2 linked regions of the Homo sapiens genome follow. The protein of the gene in region 1 purifies or fractionates together with the protein of each later gene. This does not show direct contact. Each region holds a gene or a part of one and is shown in the gene's direction. Other genes may lie near its edges.

Evidence for each region. The genes of interacting proteins can lie anywhere in the genome.
Region 2: the proteins of IL36G (region 1) and GOT1 purify together in Homo sapiens (affinity purification with mass spectrometry; one large-scale study listed by BioGRID and IntAct). This does not show direct contact.

Annotation. Positions count from the first base shown.
Region 1 is NC_000002.12:112,979,859-112,984,214, forward strand, and holds part of IL36G (interleukin-36 gamma), read left to right. Parts: intron 1-150; coding exon 151-290; intron 291-1,108; exon of another isoform or gene 1,109-1,685; intron 1,686-4,356. UniProt on the Homo sapiens protein: Cytokine that binds to and signals through the IL1RL2/IL-36R receptor which in turn activates NF-kappa-B and MAPK signaling pathways in target cells.
Region 2 is NC_000010.11:99,402,019-99,407,298, reverse strand, and holds part of GOT1 (aspartate aminotransferase, cytoplasmic), read left to right. Parts: intron 1-449; coding exon 450-573; intron 574-1,049; coding exon 1,050-1,162; intron 1,163-1,438; coding exon 1,439-1,543; intron 1,544-3,424; coding exon 3,425-3,575; intron 3,576-3,664; coding exon 3,665-3,830; intron 3,831-4,576; coding exon 4,577-4,719; intron 4,720-5,280. UniProt on the Homo sapiens protein: Biosynthesis of L-glutamate from L-aspartate or L-cysteine. Important regulator of levels of glutamate, the major excitatory neurotransmitter of the vertebrate central nervous system. Acts as a scavenger of glutamate in brain neuroprotection.

The DNA of each region.
Region 1 (4,356 bases):
GAATATGGGGGTTGGCCATTTGGTGGGTCTAGTTGGGATTACACTCTTCAGCTCTCTTCCAGATCCACTTGAGGATACTGCCCTGCTAAATCAAATAATCTTTCTGACTTCAAAAGGAAACTGATACCATCTCTCCTCTTATCTTTACAGTCACTGTTGCTGTTATCACATGCAAGTATCCAGAGGCTCTTGAGCAAGGCAGAGGGGATCCCATTTATTTGGGAATCCAGAATCCAGAAATGTGTTTGTATTGTGAGAAGGTTGGAGAACAGCCCACATTGCAGCTAAAAGTGAGTAGCTAAGAAAAATATTTAAAAAGCCTTTCCTTTTAGAAGTGTTTGGTTGAATACCTAATTTTAGAATTAAAAAAGAAATAGTCTCATCTTCCTAAGCATATTTATTCCCAGCCTCTTTTAAGTTATGTGCATGCAATACACTTTTCTTTTTATTCTGGCTGTCAGTAGTTAAGGTCCTTGTTTTGCTTTTTTTTTTTCCAAGCCAAACTGCATCCAGCTTTATTAAAGATACTTTCCATAAACATTCATGGTATTTCAGGCAGGATATGGGCAGACAATTGTTAAGAGTATGCAGCAAACTTCAAACTCCCTTGTTCAAAGGACTACCAAAAATCAGAAAGCCACTATAAAACTCAATGAAGTCTTCATCTGATGCTCTGAACAGGGAGAGTTTAGAGTGAGAGTTGACATTTCACATTTAGCATGTGGTTTAAACTTTTCACAAGCCAACCCTGACTTTCAGGAAGTGAAATGAAAATGGTAGAATTTATCTGAAGATCCACGATCTAGAAACAGAACCACTGCTCTTTTGACAGGTGCCATCTCAGTGGCATCACTGGAAAGTCCAGAGTGCCTGACATACTGGTAACCAATGATTGAGGGCCAGGTCCCAACAGATGTCTGGCTTAAAGGAGTTAAATCTATGCTGAAAGATGGAAAGGGAGAAGAGGACATAAAAATGAATTTATTTTCCATACCACAAGGCTTTTCTGCCAAGGTGGCCATGTGTGTCAAAGTCAGAGAATCCCTCCTCCTGGGAGCCAAGAGGAACTCTCTCAAAACTAGAAGGGAAAGGTGTTTTCCCCACATCGATCCAGCTTTGGAGACATTCTATTAGTGACATATGCCCCTTCCCCTAAAAACAACAATGAAGTGTTCTGGGTGCTAACAACATAGCTTAAAAAGAAAAGTAAAACAAAATTCTGCATTTTTATAAAACTTGATAAAAAATAGTTTTTCAAACTGTACAGTCACCAGAAGTACACAGTTATCAAAAATGCACACACTACACTTGGCATCTGCAGCACCTTCAGCTTTCTGTGCCTTCCCTGTTTTGGCATCTCTATTTTCTGCAGAGTTATTCCCCTCCTTGCCAGCATCAGCTTTTCCCTTTTTCCCTTTGGGTACCTTCTCTCCCTTCTTTGCAGGGGCATTTTTAGGCTTGGCCTCTGGATTTGGAGGAGCAGGTTTAGCAGACAACTTTGCGGGCCTTCTCTGTGGTTCGTCCTTCACCTTGGCTTATCTCCTTCAGCATCCCCTTCAGCCTTTCTCCTGGGCATGGTGGTGGCCACCCCAGCGGGATATAGGCACTGGATGCAGGATGCAGCATTGTGCGGGTTTTGGTCAGTCTGGGGGCTGTTCTTGCCTCTTCTTCACACTGCTCTGTCTTTCTTAACCTTTGATATATTCTTGGCCATCATTTCTTCAAGTATATTCTCACCCTTATTTTCCTTTTGGAATTCCTATTCATCCATCGTTGGAAGTTATGAATCTCACTTCAATATCTCACGATATCTCATCTAATTTTTTATACTTTCTATCCCTTCATTGCTTTTTAAAATTTTGGTGTTGCATCTGGAAGAATTTCTTGCTTTGCTCTGCCAGCTCATGGTTACATTTTCAGTGTTGTCCCTTCTGGAAATCATCCTTTTATAGCATTTCCTGAAATTTCAATCTTTACTCTTTTAATTCCCAAGCTCTCTGGTTTGTTCTTTTTTTATTTTTTAATGACTGTTTGTCCTCGTTCCACAAACTTCAGTTTAATTCAGTTTGATTCAACTCAATCCAATTCAATTAAGCGCATGTATGGGTACTTCCTGGCCTCTAGCACTGCGTAGATGCTTGAGATATAGCTGTGCACAGAATGGCAAAGAACCCTGACCATGTGGGGCTTGGATTCTAGTGAAAGGAGAGAAATGGCAAACAATAAATGTAATAGTAGGCAAATTTGTGCTATGTTAGAGGTCTTTACCTCTCCTAGAAAAATAAAAATGGTTACAGCAGGATAGATAGACCAGCAGTACCAGGAACACAGGCGGCGTCAGGCTGCAGTGGTGAATAGTGCAATAGGCATCATTGCCTAGGTGAGATGTTAGCAGGGAGTAGAAAGAGCTAGGGAAGTTAGTTAGCAGGTGTCTAGTGAGGGCACGTCCCAGGACCAGTGAGGACCGGTGTGCAGGAGTGAATTGAGGAATGAGTCCAGAGAGATAAAGGCAGACATGAAAGTCTTGTCCTTTGCAAGGACTCAGCCTTGCAATCTGAGTGAAATGGGAAATATTAGAATGTTTTGAACAGAGGAATGGCGTGAAGGGGCTTAGGTCTAAAAAGGATCTCTCTGGAGATCTTAGACTGTGGCGGGCAAAGGTGAAAGTCCTTCAGGAGACTTTGAGGTGGTCTAGGTGTGATTTGATGGGCCAGGAGATAGCAGCAGAGGTGGGGAGCAGTGAGTCAGATTCTGGTAGTATTTTAAGTGGAGGAAACAGGATTGTGAGTGTGATCAATAAAGTCAGGACTGAGAATGACATTTGCTACTTTGTCCTGTCAGCTAAGTCACCCTTATGTTGTGCGTTTGTTCTCAGATGGGGACTAAGAATTGACTGTTGCGTTTGGCAATGTGTGGGTCTTTGGGGACCTTGGCAGGAGCAGTGTTGGTGCTGTAGTGGGGGCAAAAGCCTGGATGGAGTAAGTTTAAAGGGAGGAATTACAAGAAAGGGATCAGAGACAGCAGATATGGACAGCGATTGCAGGAAGTTTTCTGCAAAGTGGAACTGGTGGCGGTGGTGGGTAAGCAAAGTAGTTATTTTGTTTAAGATGGTAGAAATGACAGCAAATATGCTGATGGGAATGACTAAGAAGAGCAAGCAAAATTGATGGAGCACAAGAGAGCAGGGAGAACGGCTAGAGGGATGTCCTTAAGTTGCAAGTGCAGATAGGACCTTTCACCCAGTCCTCCTCAAGCAGGGAGGTGCAGATATGGGTGCCATGTGCTGGGAGCCCATGTTATGGTGTGGTTTGTACAAGTTGTCTTCTAATTACTTCAATTTTCTCAGTGGGTAGGAAGTTGAAGGTGATGATGGAGGAGGTATGGGAGTTTCAAAGGAGGAAGCATTCTTCCATTTATTAAACAGCAAATCTCTGTTGAGTAGAATGCTGGGGGCTTTCCTCTGTGTTGAGGAATACAGTGATGAACAAGTCTAACAATCATTCTGGGATTGATGAATAAATACGCTAAGTTTAGATAGCAGTTGGTACTAATGAAGAAAATAACTCAGGAATATGATCGCAATGAGTAGGAGGGAGGATTCCAAACCGATTTTGGCTGGGATGGAATGTTCAGTAAAGTTCTCCCCAAGGAGGAGACCCAGGTGATGGGGAGCAGCTGGCCTTGGGAAGATGTGGGGCTGGTGTGAGGTGCAGGGAGAGTAAGTGCCAGGACCTTGGGTGGGAACAGCTTGGTGTCTTGGAAGGCAAAGAAGAAGACAGGTTGGTGGGGGCAGAATGAGCATGCAGGAGAGTGGTAAGAAGGCAGGGCAGCAGGTAGGCAGGAGCTGGGTGGCGTAGACCCTGTGGGCTTTGCCGAGGAGTTTCACTGTAATAACAATAGAAAATCATGCAAAAGGGTATCATAATCTTATTTATTTACTTCAGTTTAAAGTTCACTTACCTGCCTTATGGAGAATGATTATTAGAGAATAGAGTAGGTTCAAGGAGAACATTTAGAAGGTCACCCTAATTGTCCAGGTGAGAGAGTGATGGCCTGGATTGGGGTTGATGCCATGTGTGGAGTGCAAGAAGTGACTCGATTCAGGAAATATTTTGGTATTTTGGAAATAGAGTCCACAGGCCTTGCTCCTGGGTTAGATGTTAGGGGATCAAAAAAAGAAATGTCAATAATGACTCCTAGGTTTCTGGCCACCCAAAGAATCAGATTAACTGGAAGCCATTAATTGAGTAAAGGAATCCTGTGGGAGAAGAACTTCTCACTCAGGGTGGAATGTGGCTGAATTACAGATCATTTCTGTGTCTCTCTTGAGATCTTGAACACTTGCAATTTACTTAG
Region 2 (5,280 bases), on another chromosome or scaffold:
ACACTGTTTTAGAGGCTTATGCTAGAGGGTAAGTTTGATCTTAGGATGGGTGCTGAAGAGATGGGTTTGCCTTCCAAGGCATGTGCGTGCATGCACACACACACACACACACACACTAATGTGGCCTCGGTGTGTCCTCTACCTCTGTGTTCAGAAGGGAAGCTTCTTCTAGTGTCAGACCTCCTGGGTTGAAGACTGGCACTCCTGCTCAGTAGCTGGTAACTTTGAGCAAGGTTCTTCACCTCTCTCAGCCTCAGTTTCCTCAGTTGTAAACATGGGCAAATCATAGTACCTTTTTCATGTAGTAGTTGTAAGGTTTTGATGAGATAATACAATTAAAAGCCTTAGCACAGAGCAGGCATAGAGTAAGTGCTCATTATTACCTTATTTTTGTAAATATTATCTGACCTCACCATTATCAGCCTGTGACCCTGTTTCTTCTCTTTCAGGTAGGAGGTGTGCAATCTTTGGGGGGAACAGGTGCACTTCGAATTGGAGCTGATTTCTTAGCGCGTTGGTACAATGGAACAAACAACAAGAACACACCTGTCTATGTGTCCTCACCAACCTGGGGTGAGTCTTTCAGCTGAAGTGAGAGGAAAAACAGAAACCAGAGAGAATTATCCTCATGACTCTCCCTGGTTACACAGAAAATGTAATCCAGCCCTAGAACAACTGACTGTTGGGAATGGCTTGAACAGTGGGTTATGGCAGTGCATGAGAAACCTGCTGCTCAAAATCAAGTTAAGAATACTCTTTCTCAAGACTCTTAGTAGACTTGTATCTACCAAGGCTATGTTGAAACTCCCCAGAGGAGGCATAGAATGTAGATGCAGGAAGTATCATTGTAGTAGAATATAAGTCTGGCATTAATGTGACTGGTTGAACTTGTTCTTGGTTACAATCATTCCTCTACATCTTAACCCCCAGCCTGGATGATGCCCAGTGGACATTGAGCCTGGGAGGGCCCTGGAAGCTGACTTGCATCCTTTCCACTCATGCCTCCTAGTGTTTGTAAAGTGCTTAACTTTTTACTTCTTTGCATGCAGAGAATCACAATGCTGTGTTTTCCGCTGCTGGTTTTAAAGACATTCGGTCCTATCGCTACTGGGATGCAGAGAAGAGAGGATTGGACCTCCAGGGCTTCCTGAATGATCTGGAGGTGGGTGATTTAGAGGAAAAAGTAGAGAATTGCATGGTGTCAGGAATCTCAGGCAAAGTCTTTGGACCAGTTGCTAAGTGAAGGAGTCTGAGACACCTTCCCCATACCTGATGGTGGTTTCTGACATAGCATGTAAGAGAGAGGGCACAAAAGAGACATGAAAGAGTGACAAGAATATGGTTGCCCTTTGCCCTCCATCACTGACCAATCTGCTGCTGACTCTGTCTCCCAATATTCCCATCAGTGTCAGAGCTGACATAGCTTCCTTCTCCTCAGAATGCTCCTGAGTTCTCCATTGTTGTCCTCCACGCCTGTGCACACAACCCAACTGGGATTGACCCAACTCCGGAGCAGTGGAAGCAGATTGCTTCTGTCATGAAGGTAACTGCCCCTTCAGAGCATCTCTTAAAAAATAGTATATATTCTTATTTAATGTATGTAGAAGCAATACCTGTTTGCTGTTTGCTGAGGAATTAGGAAAATGGAGAAAAGTCCAAAGAAGAAAATAAGTATTAACTGTAAATTTTATTACCTAAAGAAAGATACTGTTAATGTTTTGGTAGATAGAATGTCAGACTGTGTGTGTGTGTGTGTGTGTGTGTGTGTGTGTGTGTGTCTAGTTTTATGTATATGTTTTACAAAGATGAGATCATTTTGTCTGTACTGTTTTGTGCAACACAATTTGTTTTTCATTTTCACTTCTTTATATACATGTCATTGAATATTTTGCAGCATCATTTTTCATAGCTATATTATATTTCTTTCATGGATATGTCATATTAGGGATGGGGTAAATCATCTGATGAATATTTAGGTTTACTTCAGATTGCTTGATCTGATGAAAAATTATGTAACAAAATTTCCTTTTATTATTTCTTTGGCGTAACTTTCTAGGTGGGAATTCCTAGCTGAAAGTGTGTATATTCTTCCTTAACGAGTTTGTAGAATACTTATTAAGGAACTGCTGTGTATTGGACACTGTGGGAATACACTATTGAATGGAGCAGATGCAGTCCCTACCCTCAAAGACAGACAGCCTGTTTGGGGAGATGGACGAGTACTAAGGCAGCTGTGATGCTGTGAGATAGCTGTGTTGACAGTGTTATAGGGGGGTACATAGCCCAGACTTTGGGCAGTGTATATGTGGGAGTTGGCGGGTTGGTGGCAGGAACCTTCCTGGAAGCAGTGGTTTCTATGTTGAGTCCTGTAGGATGGGGAGGAGCTAAGAAGGCATCAGCAGACAGGGGTTGACAGGGAAGGGATGTGCTCTGCAGAGGACGGAGCATGGTCAGAAGCCCCAGGCAGACATCATGGGGAGTGTGAGTGATGAGGCTAGAGTGAATAGGGGCAGGGTCTGTGCTGAGGCTTGGACTTTATTCTCAGGGCAGTGCGGAGCCACTGAAATCTTGGATGTCGGGGAGTGACATGATTGGATGTGCATGGTCTTAAGGCCACCCTGATGTCATAGCAGGGAATGGGTCAGAGAGAGGCAAGACTAGACAGGCCGTGGGAGCAGTTAGGAGACCATTGCCATAGCCCAGGTAGGAGTTGATGGTGACCTGGATGAAGTAGGTAGCAGTGGGGACAGTGAGATGCAAAAGGATTTGGGAGCTCTGAAGAGACAGGACTGATGAGACTTGGGGAGTGCCAGGATGTGGGGGATGAGCTGCAGAGTTAGGAGTCCAGATTCCCCCCAGTCCCACCTAGTCAAGATAAACCTAAGAGATGGGAATCAAAGTACAACCAAAGATTTGGACAGTTCCGGGGAGGGAAGTGGTGTCCACTCAGAGAGCACAGCTGTAGAAGCAGGTTCCCTGTGGAGAGCTCTTTGAGGAGATGAGTGACAGGAATGGAGGCTACTCTGTTCCCTTCCTCTTGAGTACCTAGCAGAATAGCCCATGAGGAGCCCTGGGGATACCAAGCCTACACTTGACTAAGGCTCTCACGCCAGAAATTCACAGAGGAAAATCCACAATGTAGGACATTGTCTCCTTGCATCAAAAGTAAGCCCTGTTTCTCTAAGCTGAATTGGGACACTCTAGGACAATTTACTTTTAAAAAGTAAAGTTTACGGAAAAGGTTACACTTGTTGGTTGTAGAGAGAAATGGATGTAAAGTGGAGCTTGGGTGCATATAGTCAAGAAATAGGAGAAATGGACAGCATTTGAAATTCCCTCCAGGCATCAGCTGGGGAAGGAAGGCCGGTGTCTGAGGTTGGTGCCAGAAGGATTTCCTGCCCTGACTCACTTTGCTTCCCCGCAGCACCGGTTTCTGTTCCCCTTCTTTGACTCAGCCTATCAGGGCTTCGCATCTGGAAACCTGGAGAGAGATGCCTGGGCCATTCGCTATTTTGTGTCTGAAGGCTTCGAGTTCTTCTGTGCCCAGTCCTTCTCCAAGAACTTCGGGCTCTACAGTGAGTGCTCTCCTGAGGAGTTACAGCCCCACCTCCTCGCATCACTCCCTGCTTCAGCAGCCACAGCTGATTCTGGTCCCTCTCTTTAGATGAGAGAGTCGGGAATCTGACTGTGGTTGGAAAAGAACCTGAGAGCATCCTGCAAGTCCTTTCCCAGATGGAGAAGATCGTGCGGATTACTTGGTCCAATCCCCCCGCCCAGGGAGCACGAATTGTGGCCAGCACCCTCTCTAACCCTGAGCTCTTTGAGGAATGGTAAGGGGCTCCCAGTCTGGTGGGCCGGGGGGTGGGGAGTGCAGAACAGTAATTGTCCCAGTACATTTAACTGGGTCTCTTCCTTTCATTTTGGCAGAAGCAGGATAAAATTACTTTAACTTCTTTGACTCTCAGATATTTGTAAAACAGGGGCTGATATCTACCTCACACGTGCATAACACAACACCTGGAAGACAGGAGGGGGCACTCGATGAATGGTAGTTTTCCCCAATTTCCCCCCCCACCCAGTCTTCCTCTCCATGAAGTTGGAAAACCCAAGAAGGTATTCCCAGCAAAATAGAATATCGAACGTCTAGGCAGTTTAACAGTTTGGGAGCTCTTGGTTTTTATCTGTAATTTACATACACTTTATCTTATTTTAGAACAGTAATTTTTATATAGTAGCTAAATCTGCAATCTTTATTTAGTAAGTCCTGATGAAACATATTGCCCTATTAATATCTATAGCAGCACCTCGGTGAAGCCTGAGTTGAAATGTGAGTGTATTCTAGCCAGTATACCCAAGACTAGCACTAGACTCACTAGTAAATGCAGTCCTTTCCTTCTGCCCCCTAAGTCTCTCTCTCTGGTATGTTAATCCACCCATCCAGACATCCACATGCCATAATAGGCAGGTTATGATCCCATTGTCAGCTGTCGTTTAAATTAGAGTTTTTAAACCTGTGTGTTTTCGGGTACCATCTTTCCTGTCTGGATTGGTATTTACGTCACTGTCCATGCTTCAGGACAGGTAATGTGAAGACAATGGCTGACCGGATTCTGACCATGAGATCTGAACTCAGGGCACGACTAGAAGCCCTCAAAACCCCTGGGACCTGGAACCACATCACTGATCAAATTGGCATGTTCAGCTTCACTGGGTTGAACCGTAAGTGGCCCCCACCACCTCCAGCCCATGCGTGCATGTAGACACACAACATTCCTTTCAGTCGCTCGCCTTGAGCTGAGCTCACTTTCACAGCCTTTGCCTAATTGGGCAGCCATTGCTTTGGACCAGGACAAGTTAGGTTTTCTTAGGGTGTCCCACCATCTCATAAACTCTCTGGGTCTCAGAAGAGTATTGTGGTCTGCCCTGCTGACCCACAGCCAAGATATTTCCGTGTTTGTGGGCTGGGAAGTGGCTCAGAGCCAGCTGGGAGGTAACAGGATTGGTAGCTGGGAGCCTTAATTTATGAAAGGTTCTTATAAATGCTCAGGTACATTTTGGGTTTGCCTTAATCCTGAATATAATGATTATTCAGGGAACTGATTTCTTGACAGGTCTTTCTTATTTCTAGGTATTATCCTCAAAAAGAGATTACAAAGTTATCTCTGCATTTCATAAACAAGAACCTAGATTGGGCTGGGCACAGTGGCTCACACCTGTAATCCCAACACTTTGGGAGGCTGAGGTGGGCAGATCACGAGATCAGGAGATCAAGACCATCCT